Regions from separate parts of the Homo sapiens genome. Here all the other regions are linked to region 3. The links come from fine-mapping of genetic effects on gene expression. A gene starts in region 3. Each other region holds a variant in brackets. All regions are shown on one strand. Distances are from middle to middle. Region 1 overlaps SYCP2L (synaptonemal complex protein 2 like). Region 2 has its middle 16 kb from the start of GCM2. Region 3 holds the start of SYCP2L (synaptonemal complex protein 2 like). Region 4 has its middle 110 kb from the start of TMEM170B. Region 5 overlaps MAK (male germ cell associated kinase).

The links. PIP is the estimated chance that this variant, and not a neighbour inherited with it, causes the effect.
Region 1: its variant is fine-mapped to the expression of SYCP2L in subcutaneous fat (GTEx, PIP 0.96).
Region 2: its variant is fine-mapped to the expression of SYCP2L in tibial nerve (GTEx, PIP above 0.99).
Region 4: its variant is fine-mapped to the expression of SYCP2L in prefrontal cortex (CommonMind, PIP 0.95).
Region 5: its variant is fine-mapped to the expression of SYCP2L in breast (GTEx, PIP above 0.99).

The regions. Positions count from the first base shown.
Region 1 is chr6:10,918,276-10,923,382 of GRCh38, forward strand. All of the region lies in intron 14 of SYCP2L (synaptonemal complex protein 2 like), which reads left to right. Among named protein-coding and RNA genes, the nearest start is that of SYCP2L, 34 kb to the left of the region's middle. The variant G/A (reference allele first, on the strand shown) is at 2,669.
Region 2 is chr6:10,863,675-10,868,781 of GRCh38, forward strand. No RefSeq gene overlaps it. Among named protein-coding and RNA genes, the nearest start is that of GCM2, 16 kb to the right of the region's middle. The variant TG/T (reference allele first, on the strand shown) is at 2,336.
Region 3 is chr6:10,884,562-10,889,668 of GRCh38, forward strand. It overlaps SYCP2L (synaptonemal complex protein 2 like), which reads left to right and starts at 2,491. Exons shown (of 30, transcript NM_001040274.3): 1 at 2,491-2,574. The coding sequence starts at 2,566. RefSeq lists an enhancer at 1,658-2,426.
Region 4 is chr6:11,643,203-11,648,309 of GRCh38, forward strand. No RefSeq gene overlaps it. Among named protein-coding and RNA genes, the nearest start is that of TMEM170B, 110 kb to the left of the region's middle. The variant C/T (reference allele first, on the strand shown) is at 2,319.
Region 5 is chr6:10,827,099-10,832,205 of GRCh38, forward strand. MAK (male germ cell associated kinase) reads right to left here. Exons shown (of 15, transcript NM_001242957.3): 2 at 3,450-3,779. The coding sequence starts at 3,550. Among named protein-coding and RNA genes, the nearest start is that of MAK, 8.9 kb to the right of the region's middle. The variant A/G (reference allele first, on the strand shown) is at 3,012.

The DNA.
Region 1 (5,107 bases), 34 kb after region 3:
CCGAGTGTTCTTTGTGCTTCTTGTATTTGGATGTCTTGGTCTCTAGCAAAGCTGGGGAAGTTTTCCTTGATTATTCCCCCAAATATATTTTCCAAACTTTCGTATTTCTCTTCTTTCTCGGGAGTGCCAATTATTCTCACATTTGGTCGTTTAACATCATCCCAGACTTCTTGGAGACTTTGTTCGTATTTTCTTATTCTTTTTTCTTTGTCTTTGTTGTATTGGGTGAATTCGAAGACCTTGTCTTCGGGCTCTGACTTTTTTTTTCTTTTCTTTTTTTGAGACAGAGTCTCGCTCTGTTGCCAGGCTGGAGTGCAATGGTGTGATCTCAGCTCACTGCAACCTCCGCCTCCTGGGTTCAAGTGATTCTCATGCCTCAGCCTCCCGAGTAGCTGGGATTACAGGCACGTGCCACCATACCCAGCTAATTTTTGTATTTTTAGTAGAGACGGGTTTCACCATGTTGGCCAGGATGGTCTCAATCTCCTGACCTCGTGATCCGCCCACCTTGGCCTCCCAAAGTGCTGGGATTACAGGCGTGAGCTACCATGCCCGGCTGACTTTCTTTCTTCCACTTGTTCGATTCTATTGCTGAGACTTTCCAGAGCATTTTGCATTTCTGTAAGTTGTCCATTGTTTCCTGAAATTTTGATTGTTTTTTATTTATGCCATCTATTTCATTGAATAGTTCTCCTTTCACTTCTTGTATGATTTTTTTATTTCCTTACATTGGGCTTCACCTTTCTCTGGTGCCTCCCTGATTAGCTTAATAACTAACCTCCTGAATTCTTTTTCAGGTACATCAGGGATTTCTTCTTGGTTTGGATCCATTGCTGGTGAGCTAGTATGATTTTTGGAGGGTGTTAAAGAACCTTATTTTGTCATAGTACTAGAGTTGGTTTTCTGGTTCTTTCTCATTTGGGTAGGCTCTGTCAGAGGGAAGGTCTGGGGCTGAAGGCTGTTGTTCAGATTCTTTTGTCCCATGGGGTGTGCCCTTGATGTAGTACTCTCCCTCTTTTCCTATGGTTGTGGCTTCCTGAGAGCCGAGCCGTAGGGACTATTATCTCTCTTCAGGATCTAGCCACCCAGCAAGTCTACTAGGCTCCGGGCTGGTACTGGGGGTTGTCTGTACAGAGTCCTGTGATGTGAACTGTCTATGGGTCTCTCAGCCATGGATACCAGCACCTGTTCTGATGGAGGTGGCAGTGGGGTGAAATGGACTCTGTGATGGTTCTTAACTTTGGTAGTTTAATGCTCTGTTTTTGTGCTGGTTGGCCTTCTGCCGGTAGGTGGTGATTTCCAGAGAGCATCAGCTATGGTAGTGTAGGGAGGAACAGGCGGTGGGTGGGGCCCTAGAACTCCCAAGAGTATATTCCCTTAGTCTTCAGTTACCAGGATAGGTAGGGAAGGATCATTGGGTGGGGGCAGGATTAGGAGTGTCTGAACTCAGACTCTCCTTGGGTGGGTCTTGCTGTGGCTGCTGTGGGGATATGGGTGAGGTTCCCAGGTCAATGGAGTTATGTTCCTAGGAGGATTATGGCTGTCTCTGCTGAGTCATGCAGGTTGTCAGGGAAATGGGGAAAAGTCAGCAGTCACAGGCCTCACCCAGCTCCCATGCAATCCAAAGGGCCGGTCTCACTCCCACGGTACCCCCCACCCTCAAAACCACCAAGTCTGTTTGCAGGCAATGGGTGAGCAAGAAAGCAGGGGATTTTAAAGGGGACTTGGCATGAATGGCATGTAAGGGAGAGAGTGAGGAAGTGTGGGGTCTTCATGACTTGCTTTGATGTCTTATCCATCAGGTGGTCTGGCTGGTGCCATCGTGGGCAGAACTAGGTTGTACATTGACTGTTGTCTCAAGGCAATCTCCTGGTGGGGAGAATCTCAGGGGGTGCCTGGTTTGGTTCAACGTTTGTTCCTTAGAATTTCTTTTTGTTTTGTTTGGTTTGGTTTGGTTTGGTTTTGAGACTCTCACTGTGTCACCCAGGCTGGAGTGCAGTGGCGTGATCTTGGCTCACTGCAACCTCTGCCTCCTGTGTTCAAACGATTCTCCTGCCTCAGCCTCCTGAGTAGCTGGGATTACAGGCCTATACCACCATACCCAGCTAATTTTTGTATTTTAGTAGAGATGGGGTTTTGCCATGTTGGCCAGGCTGGTCTCGAACTCCTGACCTCAAGTGATCCAACAGCCTCGCCCTCCCAAAGTGCTGAGATTACAGGCGTGAGACACCGTGCCTGGCCTCCTTAGAATTTCTAAGCAAACATATAGTTAGATGAGCTTGCAGCACAGAGAGTGCCTCATGGGAAGAAGGTAAATGTTATAATTGCGTTCCTTTTTTTATTTTCTTCAACTTTTATTTTAAGTTCATGGGTACATGTGCAGGATGTACAGGTTTGTTACATAGGTAAACCTACACAGGTTTGTTACAGGTTTGTTACATAGGTAACTTTTAAGTTAATGGGTACATGTGCGGGATGTACAGGTTTGTTACATACTCTCTGCAGGACAGAGAGTGCCTCATGGAAAGAAGGTAAATGTTATAATTGCGTTCCTTTTTTTTTTTCTTCAACTTTTAAGTTCATGGGTACATGTGCAGGATGTACAGGTTTGTTACATAGGTGCAGGATGTACAGGTTTGTTACATAGGTACATGTGCAGGATGTACAG[G/A]TTTGTTACATGTGCCATAGTGGTTTGCTGCACAGATCATCCCATCACCTAAGTGTTAAGCCCAGCATCCATTAGTTGTTCTTCCTGATGTTCTCCCCCAACATACCCAGGCCCCAGTATGTGTTCCCCGCAATGTGTCCATGTGTTCTCATCATTCAGCTCCCACTTATAAGTGAGAACATGCGGTGTTTGGTTTTCTGTTCCTGTGTTAGTTTGCTGTGGATGATGGCTTCAAGCTCCATCCATGTCCCTGCAAAGGACATGATCTCATTTTTTTTATGGCTGCATAGTATTCCAAGGTGTGTATGTACCACATTTTCTTTATCCAGTCTATCATTGATGGGAATTTAGATTGATTCCATGTCTTTGCTATTGTGAATAGTGCTGCAATGAACATAGGTGTGCATGTATTTTTATAATAGAATGATTTATATTCCTTTAGGCATATACCCAGTAATGGGATTGCTGGGTCAAATGGTATTTCTTTCTCTAGGTCTTTGAGGAATCACCACACTGCCTTCCACAATGGTTGAACTAATTTACGCTCCCACCAACAGTGTAAAGTCTTCCTTTTTCTCCGCAACCTTGCCAGCATCTGTTGTTTGACTTTTTAATAATAGCCATTCTGACTGGCATGAGATGGTATCTCATTGTGGTTTTGATTTGCATTTCTCTGATGATCAGTGATGTTGAGGTTTTTTTCATACGTTTGTTGGCTGCATGAATATCTTCTTTTGAGAAGTGTCTGTTTATGTCCTTTGACCACCTTTTTTTTTTTTTGAGATGGAGTCTCGCTCTGTCGCCCAGGCTGAAGTGCAGTGGCGCGATCTTGGCTCACTGCAAGCTCCGCCTCCTGGGTTCATGCCATTCTTCTGCCTCAGCCTCCCGAGTAGCTGGGACTACAGGCGCCCGCCACCACACCTGGCTAATTTTTTGTATTTTTTAGTAAAGACGGGGTTTCACCGTGTTAGCCAGGATGGTCTCGGTCTCCTGACCTCGTGATCTGCCCGCCTCGGCCTCCCAAAGTGCTGGATTACAGGCGTGAGCCAACATGCCTGGCCGACCACTTTTTAATGTTTTTTGTTTGTTTGTTTGTTTGTTTTTCATAATTGCATTCCTAAAGAGCTAAGTAAGAGGTGGGGGAAAAGGAAAAAGGTAAAAATAATTCATTATTTTCTTTAAGAATGTGGGTGCTCAGTTAACAGCTTTCAGGAGTCAACTTGCCAAAGTTAATATTTTGTAACTTCATGAATAGATCACGTTTCTGTGGTTCATGGTTTTTAATTTACAAAGTGCCTCACAATTTCTACAGGAAGTAGGTATTACTCTTTCCATTCTTATAGCCAAAGAAACTGATGATTGTCTAGTAAATTCCGTAAGTAAGACTTTTGTTCTGTATCATAGCCCTTCTGGTTATGGAGTTGGCAGTGTAGTATGTTGGAAGCTTGATGTAGCCCTCATGGTATTTCTTCTGACCCTTGTATATGTTTGCATTGATCCCACGGCCCAGTTAGCTAGTTACTTTTTTTTTTTTTTTTTTGAGACGAAGTCTCACTCTGTCGTCCAGGCTGGAGTGCAGTGGTGCGATCTCAGCTCACTGCAAGCTCCTCCTCCCGGGTTCACGCCATTCTTCTGCCTCAACATCCCGAGTAGCTGGGACTACAGGCGCCCGCCACCATGCCGGGCTAACAATTAGCTAGTTACTTTTTAAGATATTTAAGATTACTTTTGTTGCATGGTTTTATAGACTTTCCCTGGAGTGATGAGTAAAATGTCCGGCAAGATTAGTATTTTGGGGAGATCATGGAGGCTTACTCTAGACCAGCACTGTCCTATAGAAATATGAGGTGAGCCAGATACTTAATTTAAAATTTTCTAGTAGTCACATTAAAGAAAAAAGTAGATTAATTTGAGTAGATTAAAAAAGTAGATTAAGTAGATTAATTTTATTAATATATTTTGTTTAACCCAGAATATTATATCCTGGAATAATAATATCCAGAATATTATTTTAACATGTAATCAATATTTTAAAATTATTAATGATACATTTTACATTCTTCTTTTGTGTACTGAGTCTTCATAATCCGATGCGTATTTTGTGCTTACAGAGCATCTCGGTTAGTACTAGGCATGCTTTCAGTACTCTGATGAGTTGGACCTCACAGATTTAGACTCATGTATGTTTCCCTCTTTTTTCCCCTTGTTTCCCGTCTCATTAATTTGTGGCCATTAGCTTTGCCTGTTCTTTCCTGGACTTTGCTGCCTTTTCTATTCTCCTTCTTCCGACTTACCTTGTACTTAATGTGGTGTATTCTTGGCCTCTTTGTGAATTTGGTCTAAGCCATTTTCTCTTGTAAGCCCGATTACAATTTGTCAGGAAAGGGCTGGTGACCTGGGAGGAGGCTGCAAGGAGGCTATTGTCTGAAACACACACTT
Region 2 (5,107 bases), 21 kb before region 3:
CTCTTGAACCTGGGAGGCGGAAGTTGCAGTGAGCTGAGATCATGCCACTGCACTCCAGCCTGGGGGACAGAGCGAAACTCTGTCTCAAAAACAAAAAACAAAACAAAAAAACATATTCCTCACAAAGAATGTAAGCCCCATGAGGGCAAGAACCATGTCTACGTTGTCCATCCCTTTACTGTCAGGTTTTAGAACATTGTAGGTGTTCAGAAACTTTGTTTGAATGTGGGATCATTGATATGTTTATTATGTGCATGAACATATTCAACATCTATTGCTTCAAAAACAGATTCTTTACAAATAGAAACAGTGCTCTATTCATTCAAGTATATTATTCTTACAAATGTATTAAAATATTCATAATCAAGAAGAATATATTCATAAAGATAGTTGTTGAATATTCATAAGGATGTTTCATAAAATTTTGTGAACAAATTTCATGAAGATTTTATGAACAAATTACTTATGAAGTAATTTGAGGAATGTGTACATGGAAAGTTTTTGAAGAACATCTGGAGAAGAAAATACTAATAAGGAAAATATTTTAATAAGAAAAGCTTCAAGATGAGGAAAATATTCATGAAGAGTGTTCCTCATCTTCCCCTCTGCCTCTGCAGCTGGGCTGTTTTGCCTTCCCCATTTCATTCTTTCCTTGGAGAATTTTCCTCTGCCCAGCTCTTCCAGCTGCAGAGACAAGTTCAGCCTTCACAATTTTAATGTTTCCAACAATCATAAAATTAGCAAGTAAAAATTCTTGAAATATCATTATATTTTCCTATGTATAAAATACAATGCATGCAATAATGTACTGCCATGCCCTGCTATTTAACCTATTATTTGGCGTGTCTTATTTCTCTTGTTTACTACAAATTTCTTTTGAAATATTTTTTAGAGGCTGGGTACCGCTGTGTCTCCCAGGCTGGAGGGCAGTGACTATTCACAGGCAGGATCACAGTGCATACTCACGACCACACTGCAGCCTCAAGCCATCCTCCTGCCTCAGCCTCCTGAGTAGCTAGGACTACGGATATGCATCACTGTGCCGGGCCTATTTGTTTTTTCCTACTACAAATTTCTTGAAAGCAGCGACCTCATTTTATGCTTCTCTGTAATTCTCATAGTGAGCATTTAGCATCTAACAGGTGAATGCATATATTCTGTTGATAATGTCATGAGTTTTTTTTTTCAAATAATCTTTGCAGATATATTTTTTGAGGTAAGCTTAATTTTTTTAAAAATCACAAAACCAGATCATAAAGTTGTACCTTTATTCTAAAAGCTCTTTTTAGCGTTCCATGAGGACAGTGGCATCCTTGCAGAGGACAGTAGCACCCACAGCAGAAATGGATGGGCATCTGTCCACAGGGCACTCAGTCCTGATAACAGAAGACTGGGATAGATGACATCCATTCTGGTGTCACAATTCTGGGCACGTTTGAATTAAGGGGTTTTATTGCTACATCTTGGCAATAGCCAGAAATGATCTTTGAAAGCATAGTGCTTAAAGTGGTTAAGAGAAGGAATTCAGGTGGTTTATGGAAACCCGGATCAGTACTGCAGCCTAATACATAGGCCCTCTTGAAGCAGAAGGCTTTTTCAACTGGGGTTTTTAAAACCTCACACTTAAGAAGCATTGGAAGAGAGAATGTTTATTTTCCGCAGGCGGAGGCCTCCAAAGGCAGGTGGCTGGCATTTTTACCCAGTAGTGCCCTTCTGCTGCATCTGAAGAGCCACAGGTCGCTGCAGTTGGAGAGGGCTTCTCCTTCTTCCTCTTCTCCCCCATGCCCACAACCCTGACATGCCTCATGCTTGTCATTCAAATTTATCATTCAAACCATAACACTATGTGGGTAGCTCAGCCGTCTGAGAGAGGAGCAGAAAACCCAACTCTAATGGGCTGATGAATGGAAAATACATTACTGATGTAACATTCAAAGGACACTCTTGCTTTATCTCACCCAAGTAGAATGGAAATATGAGTAAATAGGTTGACAATCAGCTGATAGTGTCGTTTGTAAATGAAAACGTCAAAGGGTGATTTTTTTGCTTTTTAAAATCTTGTGCTGTTTATCTTTGATGTGTATACTTTAAAGGATAATAAAATATTTTTTCTCCCACTAGAGTACACAGTTAAAATAAATATTATTTTTTCATAAGTGTTCAGTACCTGAATTGTTTTTATATAAATGCACTTTTAGTTTTTTGGTTTATTCAAATGTCATTTAGTACATTTTGGACAAGAATGAAATTAAATGATAATATTCACATTAAGTAGAGTACCAGATAAAATACAGGACACCTAACTTTGAATTTAAGAAAAATGATGAATAATTTT[TG/T]TTATGTCCACGCAGTATTTGGGATACAAACTCAGGCACTACATAATGACACTTCAGTCAACTATGAACTGCATATATGTTGGCGGTCCCATAAGATTATAATAGAGCTGAAAAATTCCTATTGCCTAGTGACATCATAGCTGTCATAACGTCATAGCGAAATGCATTCCTTGTGTGTTTATGGTGATGCTGGTGTAAATCAACCTACTGCATTGCAGTCGTATAAAAGTCTAGCATATACAGTTATGTATAATATGTAATACTTGATAATGATAATAAACAACTGTGTTACTGGTTTATGTATTTACTATACTTTTTATCATGATTTTACAGTGTGCTCCGTCTATTTATAAATAAAAGTTAGCTGTAAAATAGCCTCAGGTGGGTCCTCTGGGAGGGATTCCAGAAGAAGGCATTAGTACCATAGGAGATGACAGCTCTGTGCATGTTATTGCTCCTGCAGACCTTCCAGAGAGACAAGATGTGGAGGTGGAAGACAGTGATATTGATGATTCTGACCCCATGTAGGCCTAGGCTACTGTGCGTGTTTGTGTCTTAGTTCTTAACAACAAAAAAGTTTAAAAAGCAAAAAATAAAATAAAAAATTAAGAATAGAAAAAAACTTATAGAAGGAAAGAAATATAAATAAGAAAATATTTTTGTACAACTGTACAATGTGTGTTTTAAGCTGTTATTGCAAGAGTCAAAAAGTTTTTAAAAATTTATTCTACTATAAAGACACATACACACATGTTTATTGCAGCACTATTCACAATAACAAAGACTTGGAACCAACCCAAACGCCCATCAATGATAGACTGGATAAAGAAAATGTGGCACATATACACCACGGAATACTATGCAGCCATAAAAAAGAATGAGATCATGTCCTTTGCAGGAACATGGATGAAGCTGGAAGCCATCATCCTCAGCAAACTAACGCAGGAGCAGAAAACCAAACACTGCATGTTCTCACTCACAAGTGGGAGTTGAACAATGAGAACACATGGACACAGGGAGGAGGGAGGGGAACAACACACACTGGGGGCTGTCTGGAGGTGGGGGGCAAGGGGAGGGAGGGCATTAGGACAAATACCTAATGCATGTGAGGCTTAAAACCTAGATGAATTGTTGATAGGTGCAGCAAACCACCATGGCACATGTATACCTATGTAACAAGGCTGTACATTCTGCATATGTATCCCTGAACTTAAAGTACAATTTATATATATATATATATATATATATAAATATTTTTTAAATTAAAAAGTTTTGTAAAGTAAAAATGTTATAGTAAGCTAAGGTTAATTTATTATTAAAGGAAGAAATTTTTAATAAATTTAGTGTATCCTAAGTATGCAGTATTTATAAAGTCTATGCTAGTATACAGTAAGGTCCTAGGCCTTCACATTCATTCATGACCCACTCACTGACTCAATCAGAGCAACTTCCAGTCCTGCAAGCTCTGTTCATGGTAAGTGTCCCACACAGGTGTACCATTTTTTATCTTGTTTTTTTTTTTTTTGAGCCGGAGTTTCACTCTTGTTGCCCAGGCTGGAGTGCAACAGCATGATCTTGGCTCACCGCAACCTCTGCCTCCCAGGTTCAAGCTATTCTCCTGTCTTAGCCTTCTGAGTAGCTGGGATTACAGGTGCATGCCACCAGGCCTGGCTAATTTTTGTATTTTTAGAAGAGACAGGGTTTCATCATATTGGTCAGGCTGGTCTCAAACTCCTGACCTCAGGTGATCCACCCACCTCGACCTCCCAAATTGCTGGGATTACAGGCATGAGCCACTGCACCCGGCCCATTTTTTATCTTTTATACTATATTCTCACTGTACCTTTTCTATGTTTAGATATGTTTAGATACACAAATACTTATTACATTATAATTGCCTACAATATTCAGTACAGTACTATGATGTCCAGGTTTGTGGCCTAGGAGCCATAGGTTCTACCATATTAGCCTAAGTGTATAGTGGGCTCTATCATCTAGGTTTGTGCAAATACAATCTGGTTTCTCCACAAGGATGAAGTCGCCTAAGGACACATTTCTTAGAATATATTCCCATTGCTAAGTGATGAATGACTGTGCTTATATTAAAAAATTACTCATTGTTTATCCAAAATTCAAATTTAACTGGATGGCCTGTATTTTTGTTTGCTAACTGTGGCAACCCTATCACCAAGGCAAATTTCACTGGAAGAAATTTGAAGCTCTCACTACAGTTTTTAATCAAGCACGTTGACTTTTATTCACACTTGAAAATCAATGTTACATCATCCAGAGAGTACGTATGTTGTCTCCAGCTCCTTGTTTCCCACTGGCCCTCAGCCCATTCCAATCTGCCTCACAGAGCCCCGTCACCCCATGGAAACAGGTGTCTTCACGGTCACCAACACGTTCCCTGTTGCTACACCCAATGGACGCTCATGTTAACATCTCAGCCGCATTCTGCAATGTTGACCTCCTTCTCTCTTTTGAAAGAGTTCGACTCCGGCTTCTGTGACCCCCTTCTCTGTCCTGGTTTTCTACTTATCTGGACACTAATTCTCATCTCCTCTATCAGATCCTTCTCCTCTTAACTCCAAATTGGGAACTCTTCATGGCTTCATGCAAGGTTCCCCTGTCCTCCTCTATACCAACACTGTCCAATAGAACTCCCTGTGACGATGGACATGTCCTCTTTCTGCACCATCCAATGAAGTAGCCACTAGCTATATATGGCGACTACGCACTTGAAATGTAGCTCGTGTGACTGAGGGATG
Region 3 (5,107 bases):
GGAGAAAGAAAAGAAAAAGAAAAAAAAAAGAAAAGGAAAGAAGAAAGAAAAAGTATCCCAGTCGGTCAGAGAAGCCTGCCAGTGGCAGCGGACCAGCGAACTCTGTTGGGAAGAAAGGCCAACTTCGAGCAGTTCCTCGCGATTTTTTCCTCCTTTATCTTCTAGCTGGGGTCCTCCTCCCAGTCAAAGCCGAAGGGTCCTAGCAGAAGAAAGTGATTTGTTCATTCCCAGCCTCCTTTCTCCCGAAGTTCTCCCCTCCTAAAAGGTCCTGTCAGTCAAGGTTTCTGATTAAAATCACTCTCAAATGGTCGCCACTGAGGTCTAGCTGGGAACGAAGAGATCTGTCTACTCTTCACCCACGAGTTTCATTCACAGATTTTTCATCTTATTAACTGTCTGCCAAAGGTCCCCGAAACTCCTGTTGATTCAGTTGCTTTTCGTGTTGTTTTGTCTTCCAAAATTGAATGAAAATTTATTGATTATCCATTTTAATTATAGTATTTCATTAAATGTTGTAGTCTAAGATAACTTATCCTTTCAAATGTTCTAAAAATAACTTTAAAATGGTGATTTAAAGTTACCTCTGAAAATGCATAGAAATTAATTTTTGGTCTTATTGCAGTGCTAGAATAGTTCTTGTCTCTGTGCTTTTGGAATGTTCCTAGAGAGACCTGACCCGTCAAAAACATAAATAAATAAAACTTTTTTATGTAAAAGGCAAATCAATTAATTTCTAAAGGGATTCTGGTATCCAAAGAAATGTCATAGAGCCTCTACTATATTTAGTTTGAGAAGAATTAGAGTATGCATTTCAAGTTGCCATAAATTATATTAAGACAAAACATGTTAGTAAAAGAAGCTAATCAAAGTAAAAAAAAAACCAGATAAAAGGTATTTTGCCTATTCTGTTATTTTTAATTTCTCTTAAAGATTTGAATGCATTGCACCATAGACTTTGGAAGGACATGTTTTCCCCCAAAGCCTGAAAATAATAGATGATTAAGTTTTCTATCTAATATTATGAAAACTCTAATTTTTAAATATTCTCTTAAAATTCATTTAAACTGTAGTATTTTGTTTATTGCTTCTTATTATTCATTGTTTCTTTCTTGCCCTGGTATTATATTTGTATTGACTCACAATAGCTTATACTCACAGCTGTTCCTGTCTTGATTACTAGTTTAATATTACAAAAGTCCATTCATTGAAAAGGAAAAAAACTTGCGTTTGAATTTCCTTGGTTTAGATTAAAATAGGTAAATTAATGTAAGAATGTTTACATTATACTTTCCAGGAAATTGATATGACAGGCTTTGACATAAACATTGTTTTGAACGGACTAGAAATGTGTGCAAGTCCTGGGCTAACAGGGGTTCTGGTTTTGTTATGTTTTGCTTTGGTGTAGACAAATATCTTCCGTACATATTATGACTTGAAATACTCACAGGTCTAGTTATAATACAAGTTGATTTTTACACAAAGGATGTTTGGATTGGAGGGGTCTTTTTTTTGTTTTTTGTGGAAAACTCTAGTCCAATTTAATTTTGCCACCGTGTTCACACAACTGGCCACCTATCCGAATCAGCCTAGCCATTGGTACGCATACTTGTCAGGTTAAAGGAAATAGGCAAACAAAGAAACAAAAAAACAAAAACAAAAACAAAACTATTTGCTTTGATTAAAAAAAAAAATTCCCCTTCCTCCCCACCACGGTACTTAAAAAACAACCACCAAACACACTTTGTGTGTGTGTGAAATCAGGAATGTATTAATAATATCGGGTACAAGTCTGGTTACCATAGGAAAGGGTTCGGCTTCTGTCTGCACACATCAATGGACCAAAAACTGCTCCTCTGGCTGTTTTTTTTTTGAGACGGAGTCTCACTCTGTCCCCCAGGCTGGAGTGCAGTGGCGAGATCTCCGCTCACTGCAACCTCCGCCTCCCGGGTTCAAGTGATTCTCCTGCCTCAGCCTCCCCAACAGCTAGGATTACAGGCACGTGCACCGCGCCCGGCTAATTTTTTGTATTTTTAGTAGAGACAAGGTTTCACCATGTTGACCAGACTGGTCTTGAACTCCTGACCTCAAGTGATCCACCAGCCTCGGCCACCCAAAGTGCTGGGATTACAGGCGTGAGCCACCGCGCCTGGCCGCCCCTCTGGCTTTTTAAGGCGGGGCAAAAACTTGGAACAGCTACCACAAAGCGAACGCCTATCTGTTTGGAATTTCGCAAATAAGGAACGTTTAAATGACGTAGTTCACATCCTTTGAGTGCTGGCTTTCTCTTAAAGGGTGAGTGCGTGCGCCCAGGTGGTTTGGCCTGTGTGCGCTAGTTACTTGCACGCGCTTCTTGAGTCTCAAAACACAGAGCTCTAGTAAACTTCAGGGGGCGGATTCGTCAATTACAGTTGCGGAAGAAGACTCGACTCGAAGAGCGGTCCGCCACCAGGGCTCTTTCGGCAGCGCCCCCAGCGGGCGGGGCTCTTGGGCGGGGAAGCAGGAGAGGGCCGACCGAGCGCAACAAAGCTGAGCGGCGCGTCGCTTCAGGAACGAAGAAGCCTCGTTATGCAAGCGGTGAGTGACCCCCGAAGGGCCCGGACCTTCTGTCCACAGTGCTAGGGCGCGCGAGGGCGCGGGGTCCCTGGGGCTCAGGTTCTGCCGCCTTGAGGTGTTCGCTCAGAGACCGGGTGCTGGGCATAGTCCCCCGCCACCTCCTTGGGTTTGCTCGGAGTGTATTGGCAGCCTGCGGGGAGACCAGGCAGAATAGAAACCTCGGATCCCTAGCTAAATAGCGCTCAGGGAAAGGGGAACCGGAGAATTCGTGTTCGGAAAGCAATGAGATAGTTCTTTTCTAGTTGCTTTGCGTATTTTCCTAGCCGGTTTTCCAGCCCTCTTTCCACCTTGCTGCGTAGAAAGTGCAGAAGTGTTAAGCAACCCCAAGTGCTGGGACTTCATTTAACCGAACGACAAAGGACAGCCCCTAAGATAAAGCTACAATTATTACTTATCAATAAATAATAAAAAAAAACACATGAAGTTTGAGCCCACCCAGGGACGCCAAAAACAACAAACAAAAACCACCTGGGGCGTGTTTCTAACATTCTTCTGCCTGGGTTCCTGGTGGTAGAAATTCTGATGTAATTGGTCTACGGTGGGCCGGTAGTTTGTTAGTTTGTTAGTGAGGACGCCAGGTGATTCTGATAGCCAGGGGTAACTGCTTGCCTAGATCCAGGAACTCACTCTTGTTCTCCATAAAATCCATCTGTCATCTGGCGCCATCTTCCCAGCCATGGGGAAACAGATTTGGGACAGAAACCTTTCTAACATCAAGCTACGCTTAAATTCAGAGCACTTAAGCATAACCTCCTCACCCTCTCCATCCCTGTTACATTGAAAGCTGCCATTCACTGAGCCATTTTTATGTGCCCAGGCACTATGCTAAGAACATTACAGACATTCTGTCAGTCAGTCCTCACTCCAATCCTTCCATATAGGTGTTACCATCTTTTTTTTTTTTTTTTTTTTTTTTTTTTTTTTTTTTTTTTTTTTTTTTGAGACGGAGTCTCATTCTGTCGCCCAGGCTGGAGTGCAGTGGCGTGATCTTGGCTCACTGCAACCTCTGCCTCCCGGGTTCAAGCGATTCTCCTACCTCAGCCTCCCGAGTAGCTGAGACTACAGGCGCGCGCCACCACGCCAGGGTAATTTTTGTATTTCTAGTAGAGACGGGGTTTCACCATGTTGGCCAGGATGGTCTCTGTCTCTTGACCTCATGATCTGCCCGCTTCGGCCTCCCAAAGTGCTGGGATTACAGGCGTGAGCCACAGCGCCCGGCTATCATCATGTTTTTTAAATGAGGAGACTGAATCTCAGAGAATCTAACGATCTTTTCTGCCTAAACCATCCCACTTTCTGATTTTCCTGTCAGGTTCCTACCCACAAAAGCTGCCACATGATCTTCACAGAAGGGGGATACCTTTCTGTGTACTAGAGTGGCTCCAGAAATTCCAGAAACAGGAAGCATTTCTTTGGAATTTGCAAAGTACTGACCACCAAGGCCAGAGAAGGTTGAAAGGAGGTAGAAATAAAAATAAGCAGAGCATCTCTGCATACGAATTGAACTGAAGGAGAGATAGGGCCGTGTCTATAGAGAAAAGAGGTAAAGAAGCTTAACATAAAGGCTCCCGGGAATATTTTCTTTGGGATGGGAAGTATTTCCCACTAATTCAGAATTTGTTGACAAAACTTAGAAATTATAGATACGTAGCATAGTGTTTATTTGATGTCAGTTTATGCTATGAATTAACACCCTTTTTTTTTTGATACGGAGTCTCACTCTGTCACCCAGGCTGGAGCGCAGTGGCTGGATCTCGGCTCACTGCAACCTCCACCTCCTGGGTTCGAGTGATTCTCCTTCCTCAGCCTCACGAGTAGCTGGGTCTACAGTCACGTGCCACTGCGCCCAGCTAATTTTTGTATTTTTTAGTAGAGACGGGTTTCACCATATTGGACAGGCTGGTCTCGAACTCCTGACCTCATGATATGCCCGCCTTGGCCTCCCAAAGTGCTGGGATTACAGGCGTGAGCCACTGCGCCTGGCCTAACACCCAATTTTAATTGTAGCTTTAGCTGTTCCTCCTATCTCACTTTTGCCTCTACTCAATTATCCACTAACACAATGGTTCTTTTTCTTTGCCTTTATCATTTATTTTTAATTGACACATATATTAATTGACACATAGTAATTGCACATGTTAATTGGGTGTAGTGTGATATTTCCATATGTGTATACAGTGTGTAATGATCAAATCAGGGTAATTATGCATATCCATCACCTCAAATATTTATTTCTTTGTGTTGGGAATGTTCAAAATCTACTCGTATAGCTATTTGAAAATATACAATAAGTTGTACATTATAGTCACCTTGCAGTACTATCTTACTCTAGAACTTACTCCTTCCAGCTAGCTGTAATTTTGTGTTCATTAACTAACCTCTGCCTATCTCACTTCCTCTTTTCTAGTGACCACTATTCTCTCTACTTCTATGAGATCAGCCTTTTTTTTTTTTTTTTTTTTTGAGATGGAGTTTCACTCTTGCTTCCCCAGCT
Region 4 (5,107 bases), 760 kb after region 3:
CCATCACGGTAGAGGACAGTCCTGGGAATCAGTGTCACTTATCTGGTTTTGATAAAACACAGAAGGACATGAGCAAACTCAGATGCCAGGTAACATCTTTTGTGTCCAGGGAAAGGCCCAGAAGACAGAAGCTGGTCCTCCCGGTGGGTTGCACTTTCATTAAACAGAGTCACCGTGCATTCACACAGTAATCTACACTTTCCAATGTACTTCCATAATTGATATTTTACTCCCTCCCCAGAGTACTGTGATGGAGTAGGCAGTAGCACTATGAGAGCAGCAAATTTTATGGAAGATGAAACTCAGCGGCTCAGGGAGGTTAACTGACTTTCTTGACGTCATAATGTCAGAGGTTCCCTGACCACCTTGATGGATTCCTAGGAGATTTAAGGATGAAACTGGTGGTGGTGGGGTCCATAACTCACTGAAATGATACTTAAAATTTGCTTTTTGCAGGTGTGTACATGCAATTTTATTGAAGAGATTTTCACCACATTCTCAAAGTAGTCATTGAACATCAAAAGCTTAAGACCTCCAGGCTTTTCAGTGTGTAACTGGAGAGGTATGGAAAAAACTGGCCAACCACAACCCTTGTGGGAAGAGAGTGGGGCCCACATGTGAAGTAGAGAGTTCAGGATGAGAGTCACAGTCCCTCTCTGCCCAACGTAGCTTAAAAGGCCCTTTCACCAGCAGCAGCGATATCACTATGTCACTACACAGCCATCAAACTTCCATCTTCATTACTTGTTCAGAGGACCCTACATGGGAACTCTCCCAGTGCTCACACACCTGCCTGGTACAGTGACAGCATTCCATCACATGTGAGCCTAACTTTAAGAAAACCAGATTATAAAAAATCATTTAGCTTCTAGTCCCAGCTACTCAGGAGGCTGAGGCGCAAGGATCACTTGAGCCCAGGAGTTCTGGGCTGTAGGACGCTATGCTGGTTAAGCATCTGCACTAAGTTCAACATCACTATGATGACCTCCCAGAAGCAGGGGCCACCAGGTTGCCTAAAGAGGGGTGAGCCAGTTCAGATCAGATACAAGCAGTTAAAACTACTGTGCTGATGAGTAGTGGGACTGCACCTGTGAATAATCACTGCATTCCAGCCTGGGCAACATAGCAAGACCCCATCTCTGAAATAAATAAATAAAAATGATAAATTTAAAAAATCATGTAAAGGATAAATATGAGAGTGGGGTAGTTTTCTACTTTACAAAATGATGCAACATATTTTTCTGAAGCAGTTTTAGGTATAAAGTGTTAGTTTATAGGATTATCATGCCTGTAGCTTACTTAGAAATATTTGACAGTGGCCAGGCGCGGTGGATCATGCCTGTAATCCCAGCATTTTGGGAGGCTGAGGTGGGCAGATCACGAGGTCAGGAGATTGAGACCATCCTGGCCAACATGGTGAAATCCCATCTCTATTAAAATACAAAAAATTAGATGGAGAGGTGGTGTGCGTCTGTAGTCCCAGCTACTCAGGAGGCTGAGGCAGGGGAATTGCTTGAACCTGGGAGGCAGAGATTGTAATAAGTCAAGATTGCGCCACTGCACTCCAGCCTAGCAACAGAGCAAGACTCCATCTAGAAAGAAAGAAATACTTGATAGTATCTAGTGTGATACTATGTGTGTTACTTTAGCTTAGGTGAACTTCATGTGCCAATCAAGAACGCCTCTTATGGGGTGACCAGGCAGGATTACATCAGAAAGGCCAGACACGTCTTTTACAAGCCCTCCTTGTTCAACAACCATTACTTTGCTGATTCTTACATAAGGTGTAAACAATAGGTTTTTATTGATGAAATTCGTGTCTTGGTAGTTAGTTTTCACTGGCAAAATTAAAGGAATTCAAGATGCATAGATTAGAGCTTAGAGGTCCTCCTTCCTTCTTGACTGAAGAGGACCTCAGAATGCACTCAACCATGGATCTGTTCCCTTTGAGGATATTTTCTTAGCTTGAGCCCCAGTTAGTCTTACAGCCATTGGTTAAGAGATGAGATAATGCAGATGGCAATGTTTTGCAATGTTTTGCATCTTGCTGAGAATTGTTGCTGTGTCTGTGGTGAGCAGACCTTTTATAGGATATGCTTGGAGCACCTAAACAGAGAGCTGAGAGCTGGGACTCCAAGTTTACAGGACTGCTTGATGAACTGTTCTGAGCTTGTTTTGGTCAGGGACTTGCTTTTTTTTTTTTATTACCTGCTAACAAGGTGGTAGAGGAAAACTAATTATTTGCCCACTCCGATTTTCTTGAAGCCCACTGCGATCTACCAAACCAAAGCAAACCAAACTCCCAAAGTTGGCCATGA[C/T]CAAATTAAAATTAAATACTTTGTGGTAATGTTATTTTTCAGAGGGTCATTAATCATACACATGTAATGTAGAATTTGCCTACGTGGATTCTCAACATTTTTTTACTCGAGAGATAGCATGAGGGAAAAGGCTACCATGGAAGAGGACTGAGGAAGAGGATTTCTTCCTCCAAAGAGGTTTAGGAAGAGGAAACGAAAGGCAAGTTCAAGAAGACAGCTCGGGGTGAAGGTCCTGGTGAGGATTTCAGAGTGTAGATGAAGATCTCACCTAAAGCACTGGTGGGGAGTCCAGAGGGATGGGTTCCTTGTCTCTGGAGGGAAAGAATGAAAGCATTGGAAAGACATGCACTCCTCCCCTATAGAAGAGTTGGAGAAAGAAAGGGACAACTTCAGCCAGGCGCAGTGGCTCACGCCTGTAATCCCAGCACTTTGGGAGGCCGAGGTGGGTGGATCACTTGAGGTCAGGAGTTCGAGACCAGCCTGGCCAACATGGTGAAACCCTATCTCTACTAAAAATACAAAAATTAGTTGGGTGTGGTGGCAGGTGCCTATAATCCCAGCTACTTGGGAGGCTGAGGCAGCAGAATCACTTGAACCTGGGAGGTGGAGGTTTCAGTGAGGCGAGACTGTGCCATTGCATTCCGGCCTGGGCAATAAGAGCAAAATTCCGTGTCAAAAAAAAGAAAGTCATAGCTTCATTATTTGTTTATTTAAGAAATACTTAAATATATCCCAAGAAAAGTTCTAGCTGGCTGATTAGCAGGGAATGACCACAATATTTATGAAAGTTTTCTCTTACCATTTTCAGAAATCTGTTTGAGAATTGTCAGCATTTTAGCTTGTCTCAGGATGCCGGCATGAACCACATCTTTGCAGGTGCTCCGCTAGGACCATTTTTTGTAAAGCCAATTAATATACATTTATTTAATGTCTATCTAACTGTGCTAGGCACTGAGGAGGACAGAAGAGAAGCATTTGACTTAGTTTTGACCTCGAGAACTGATAGAAGATGCCGATTTGAAAGACATTAGACAACTAGCCACCCATTTCCAGCATTTTATGGTTTATAAGCATTATTATGATGGGATTCAGTGGAAGAGGATATTAGTGCAGGCAAATGTGAAGGCTTTGAGCAGAAGACAGGATTTAGGCTGAAGCTGTATTTTATAAGCTTAGATATTTATTTTGATAGGGAAAAGGGGAATCTTTGAAACAGAGTCAGGAGGCTGGGTGAAAATGGGGAAGAGGGAAAGTAGCCTCTACATCAGCGCAGCTATGTCACTGTCAACATGAGGGCTTAGGAGGCAACCGGCTCTGTTCACTGCTCTCTGAAGCCAGCCTTGGCTGAATTCTAGCCAGTCAAGCAGACGTCTGACCAATACTTTATATAGCAGCTTGGCAGAAAGAGTACCCCTTCCTCCACCACCATCAAGTAAAAAATGGTGAGGACAACAAAACTCACACCTAAAAAAATGTTAGGCCATGCTATGATTCACTTGCAAACCAGAATTAATCTGTAAGTCTATGAGGTGCTGGCCTGGGGGCCTAACGGGCTCGTACTCACACATGAGGGACACCAGGAAATAAGAATTCGCATGGGAGAAGAGAGGAGGACTCAGAGGAAGTAAATGTACTCAGCTTAGACTGAGTAGGAAGGGGCTTCCCAGGCCCTAGCCGACCCCACTGAGGCTGGCTTCAGGTGGGCAGATTTCACTACTGCTGCCCACCTCAGCATGCAGAAAAGGTCATTATCAGCACATAAACAAAACACACTAATCTAAAACACTTTGCTTTCATTGAAATCAAACACAATTAACTTATTATTTTAACTACCCAGTAGAGTCCAAGGTGGAATTTTAAAAACCAAGGAAAAGAATATGATAACTTTCAGAGAGTTCAAAGAACAGTCAGGCCATTTTATCAGTACAATTGTTTTGGAGGTCACTGTTTTCTGAAAGAATTAAAAGTGGAAAGGTCCTCAGGGAGCATCTGTCCACCCTCCTCGTTTTACAGATGAGGGCGCAGAGGCTGGAGACCGAAGGCACTTGCCTCAGTTACTTAGTCATTTAGAGCAGGGTCAAGGTTGGGACGAGATTGCAAAGAGTCTGGGTGAAGTCCCATGCTCTTTCAATTAAATTTGCCAGCTAATTATGAGTATTTAATTAACCTCATAGTTTTTTAAAAGCTTTGATGAAATAAAATTCATATAACGGATAATTCACCCCTGTGACGCTTACAGATCAATGGCCTTTACCATATCCACACAGTTGTGCACCCATCAGCAGAAGCAATTTTTAGAACATTCTCATTATCCTAAAAAGAAATTTCACACCCCTTAGCTGTCAGTCCCTGATACGCCTATTTGGCTATTTCTGCATCTTCTTGGGAGAAATAGCCGTTCAGAATGCCTCCTAAGTCTTAGGCAACCACTAATCTGCTTTCTGTCTCCGCAGTTTGCCAGTTCTGGATGTTTCATAGTATGAAGTCATATAATATGGGGTCCTTTGTGACTGGCTTCCTTCACTTGATATGTTTGTGGGTTTTTTTGTTTTGTTTTTTTTCTTTTTGAGATGGAGTCTCGCTCTGTTGCCCAGGCTGGAGTGTAGTGGTGTGATCTCAGCTCACTGCAAGCTCCACCTCCCAGATTCAAGCAATTCTCCTGCCTCAGCCTCCCGAGTAGCTGGGACTACATCACTTGGCATGTTTTTAAGGTTCATTCATGTTGTAGCATGTATTTATACTTCATTTCTTTTTGTTGCTGAATAATATTCCATTGTATGGACATACCA
Region 5 (5,107 bases), 57 kb before region 3:
GAATCCATCTCAAAACAAAACAAAACAAATACCATATTTTTGAAGGATAAAACAAATACCATATTTTTGCCACTCAGAAAAAAATGATGGACATTTTGTCATATAAAACCAGACAGTAATAACCATCTGTGGGACTGTACCCAAGACCCAACACCCCTTCTGATTCGCCTACCCTCCTCCCCAGAACCCATGGCTATCATGGATTTTGGGTGTATCTTTCCAGGCCTTTAAAAATATTTTTGTATATGGATGTATTTGTATATAATAAAGTATTTCTTTGTGTGAATTTACATAATCATTTAATCTACAAATGTGGGCTATTTCAGCTCATTTTGTCTAATAACACTCATTTCTTAGGTTTCTGTCTTATAGCAGTAGTAAGTATCCCCAATGCAATCCTAATCAGCAGGACTGCTAGCAGGCATTTGGGGTTTTCAAACAATTTGTACTGATATTACTTCTGATATTTCACATTAATATGAATTATATAGGTTTTCGTACTAATTCACATTAATATGAATTATGTAGGTTAGGGAAGTTTCTTTTTATTCCTATTTGCTAAGTTTTTGTTTTGTTTTACTTTTGTTTTTGTTTTTAGATAGGGTCTCACTAGGTCACCTAAGCTGAAGTACAGTAGTGGTGGCACTATCTTGGCTCACTGCAGCCTCGACCTCCTGGGCTCAAGCAATCCTCCCACCTCAGCCTCCCGAGTGGCTGGGACTATAGGTGAGCACCACGATGCCCAATTAATTTTTGTATTTTCTGTAGAGGTGGGGTTTCACCATGTTGCCAAGCTGGTCTCAAACTCCTGGGATCAAGCGATCCTCCTGCCTTGCCCTCCCAAAGTGCTGGGATTATAGGTGTGAGCCACTGCATTCAGCCAAGAGGCTTTATCATAAGTTTTTTAAGAAATCAATGTTTGTTTTTTTTAGTTCATCAAATCACAAATGAGCACTGAATTTTATTAAGCCTATTCAATTTATTTTTCATTTCCATTATTGTATATTATATATTTACTTATCTGATGATAATGACTATTTAAAAATATTTTATGAAGTTATTTCCTTGTACATGTAATGGTTTAGATCATAATATTTTAAAACATTTGCTAAAGTATTTAAATTTTAGTTTGTCATAATTTGGTTGATGTGGTAATGTGGAGATGCGTATCCCATGAGTACGGGACTGGTTCTGGTGGAAGTCAACTGCCATGTCCCGAGGCTATTCAAACAACCCTCTGGAAAGGCCCAAGGAAGGAGCCTCTGTAAAAGGGAATTGAGGTGCCTCTTGCCAACAGCCAGTACAAATATGCCAACCCTGTGAGTGAGTGTGATGGGTTCAACTGTGTCCCCCAAAACTCCTATATTGAAGTCCTAGCCCCCAGACTTTCACGGTGTGACAGTATCTGAAGATAGGGTCTTTAAAAAGGTAATTAAGTTTAAGTGAGGTCTTTCAGGTAGGCCCAAATCTGATATGACTGGTGTCCTTATAAGAGGAGCCTGGGCAACATGGCAAGACCCCATCACTCCAAAAAAATTTTTTAAAAATTAGCCACATGTTGTGGTACACGCCTACAGTCCCAACTACTCTGGAGGCTGAGGCAGGAGGATGGTTCAAGCCCAGGAGGCTGAGGCTATAGTGAGCTATGTTTGTACCACCGTACCTCAGCCTGGGCGACAGAATGGAACCCTGTCTTGAAAAAAAAGAGGGGGGAAATGTGGACACAGACATGCACAACGAGAAGATCATATAAAGACCTAGAGAGGATATGGCTGTCTACAAGCCAAGGAGAGAGGCCTCAGAAGAAACAACCAGCAGATACCTTGATGTTGCACTTCTTGCCTCCAGAACTGTGAGGAAATAAATCTCTGTTGTTTAAGCCAACCAGTCTGTGATACTTTGTTACAGCAGCCCTAGCAAACCAAGAGTGAGCCACCTTGGAAGTAGATCCTGCAGTCCCAGTCAAGCCTTCGGATGACTGAAACTTCGGCCAATTATCTGACTGCCATCAGAGAACCCAAGCCAGAACTACCCAGCTAAGCTACTTCTAAATTCCTGACCCACAGAAACTATGTGAATTAATAAATGTTTCTTCTTATTTTAAATCACTAAGCTTTGCAGGTATTTTGTTATGCAGCAATAGATAAACACAGTGGATTAAAAACAAACAAATTAACAACAATTCTATTTCATAAGTTCAGGAATATAACATATATCATTCAGAACTCAATTTGACATTATGAATACCATCTGATTTTGAGACCTTGTTTTAAAGAAATAATAAGCCCTACTCTGCACTCAACTTTAAATGTGAAAAACAGGTCAGGAATGGTGGCTCACACCTGTAATTCCAGCACTTTGGGAGGCCAAGGTGGGTAGCTTGCTTGAGCCTGGGAAGTCAGGACTGCAGTGAGCCATGATCACACCACTGCACGCCAGCCTGGGCAACAGAGTGAGACCCCCATCTCAAAAAACACAAACAAAAACGAAAACCAACAAATAAATTTGGAAGAACATTCCAAAGATCACCTGTAGTTTTGGTCCAAATGTATTATACATATAAAAAAGGAGGCACTCATATTTTTTGGTTTATCAGTGTAGCTGGACAAGCCAGACAGTTAAAGTAATATAGAAGAAAAACAGCAGAATTCCTCTTTGGCAATGTTCTTTTCCAAGAATGACATTCCACATGAGCCAGATGCTATTTGATCTAAACTAGACCTCTTTCTGTGCTCGTATATATTCTTTTTTTTTTTGAGATGGAGTCTCCTTCTGTCACCCAGGCTGGAGTGCAGTGGTGCAATCTCAGCTCACTGCAACCTCTGCCTCCCAGGTTGAAGCGATTCTCGTGCCTCAGCCTCCTGAGTAGCTGGGATTACATGTGTGCACCACCATGCCTGGCTAATTTTTGTATTTTTAGTAGAGACAGGGTTTCACCATGTTGGCCAAGCTGGTCTCAAACTCCTGACCTCAACCCAAAGTGCTGGGATTGCAGGCATGAGCCACCGCAC[A/G]CAGCCTGTGTGCACGTGTGTGTGTGTGTGTGTGTGTGTGTGTGTGTGCGTGTGCACGTATATATATATATTTTTAGACGGAGTCTCACTGTATCACCCAGGCTGGAGTGCGGTGGCGCGATCTCAGCTCACTGCAACTTCCACCTCCTGGGTTCAAGCAATTCTCCTGCCTCGGCCTCCTGAGTAGCTGGGATTACAGGCGCGTGCCACCATGCCTGGCTAAGTTTTGTATTTTTAGTAGAGACAGGGTTTCACCATGTTGGCCAGGCTGGTCTCAAACTCCTAACCTCATGATCCGCCCGCCTCGGCCTCCCAAAGTGCTGGGATTACAGGCATGAGCCACCGCGCTGGCCTGTGCTGGTATATATTCTTAAGCGAGGACAGGAAAATAAAGAGCAGAGTTTTCAAAGGTGAAGTTGGCAGTGTCACACACAGTACCTTTTGATGGCCACCAGCTCCCCGGATTCATTACTCTTGCCCATAAGCACACTCCCATACGTGCCGTCCCCCAACTGTCTCATGGTTGTGTATCGGTTCATCTTGGAAAAATAATGCAGCAGAAGTTGTTGATTGAAATGACTTCCTTGTTGAATATAAATTTGAACGCTTCTTAATTTTTATTTGCTTTTGTCCTCACACTGTTGTTGCTACACTGGTGACAGGTTTGTCATCATTAAATATAGTCTCTCCCCCAAGATTACAGAGGTTCATGAGATATAGCATGAAGGAATCGGGCAAGGAAACAACACTTCCATTCTTATAAACACCCTAAAGAAAGAAAACAAGGATATCATGAATTTTCATTAACAAGTCTCTTCAAAAATTGTACTGGCAACTTAGAGCAAAGGGAAAATTATAAATAATATAAATACTATTGTGTTAAATATTTGTCAGTAAGTCATTTGTCTATGTAAAATGAAGTTCACATATAACTCACTGGTAATACTCACTTGGTAAATGCCTCATTTACATGGTACTGTGCTATTTATGTTCAATAATGGCATAATGGCTTGTATGATTCCTTTTTTACTAAATATAATCTACATTATTCCAAATCAGACCTTGGAAAATTGATGTCTATATGATATCCATTCTTTGAATCAATTTTTGTATCATATTTAATTTGGCATATTGTTTAAAACTGTACTACTTGTAAATTTTCTGTGGAATATAAGTACCCCAATTGGGTAAGGTAAGTATAAAGCAAACTTTTGTTTCATATGAAAGGAATAGCATTATTTTAAAATTTCATATTCTATTTAAATAACATGCTACTTTATTTTACATCAAACTAAGAAAAATGTAAATACTAATTAGGATTTAGTGTCACACTAGGTTCATACAAAGAAATAAGAAACATAGCCGGGCGTGGTGGCTGATGCCTGTAATCCCAGTGATTTGAGAGGCCAAGGCAGGAGGATTGTAGAGGCCAGGAGTTCAAGACCAGCCTGGGCACCATATCATGCCCTTCTTTACAAAAACTAAAAAACTAGCTGGACTTGATGGCACGCTTGTAGTCCCAGCTACTTGGGAGGCTGAGGCACGAGGATTGCTTGAGCCCAGGAGTTCAAGGTTACAGTGAGCTATGATCACACCACTAAACTCCATCCTGGGTGACAGAGTAAGACTCTGTCTCTAAAGAAAAAAAAATTTTTTAATAAATAAAAAGGGAAGTAGAGCCTGAAGATGTGACTGAAATGTTGTAACCTCATAATCAAACTTGAATGAATGAGGAAGTGTTTCTTATGGATGAACAAAGAAACTGTTTTATTGAGATGGAATCTACTTCTGGTAGAGATGCTATTAACACTGCTGAAAAGACAAAAAAGAATTTTTTTCTTTTTTTGAGACAGAGTGAGACTCTGGTTGGAGTGCAGTGGCACAATCTTGGCTCACTGTAACCTCCGCCTCCCAGGTTCAAGTGATTTTTGTCCCTGAGTCCTCACCCCTGTCACCATCACTCCCCCAGTAGCTGGGATTACAGGTGCCCACCCCGACCCCCAGTAGCTGGGATTACAGGTGCGCACCACCACACCTGGCTAATTTTTGTATTTTTAGTAGAGATGGGGTTTCACCATGTTGGCCAAGCTGGTCTC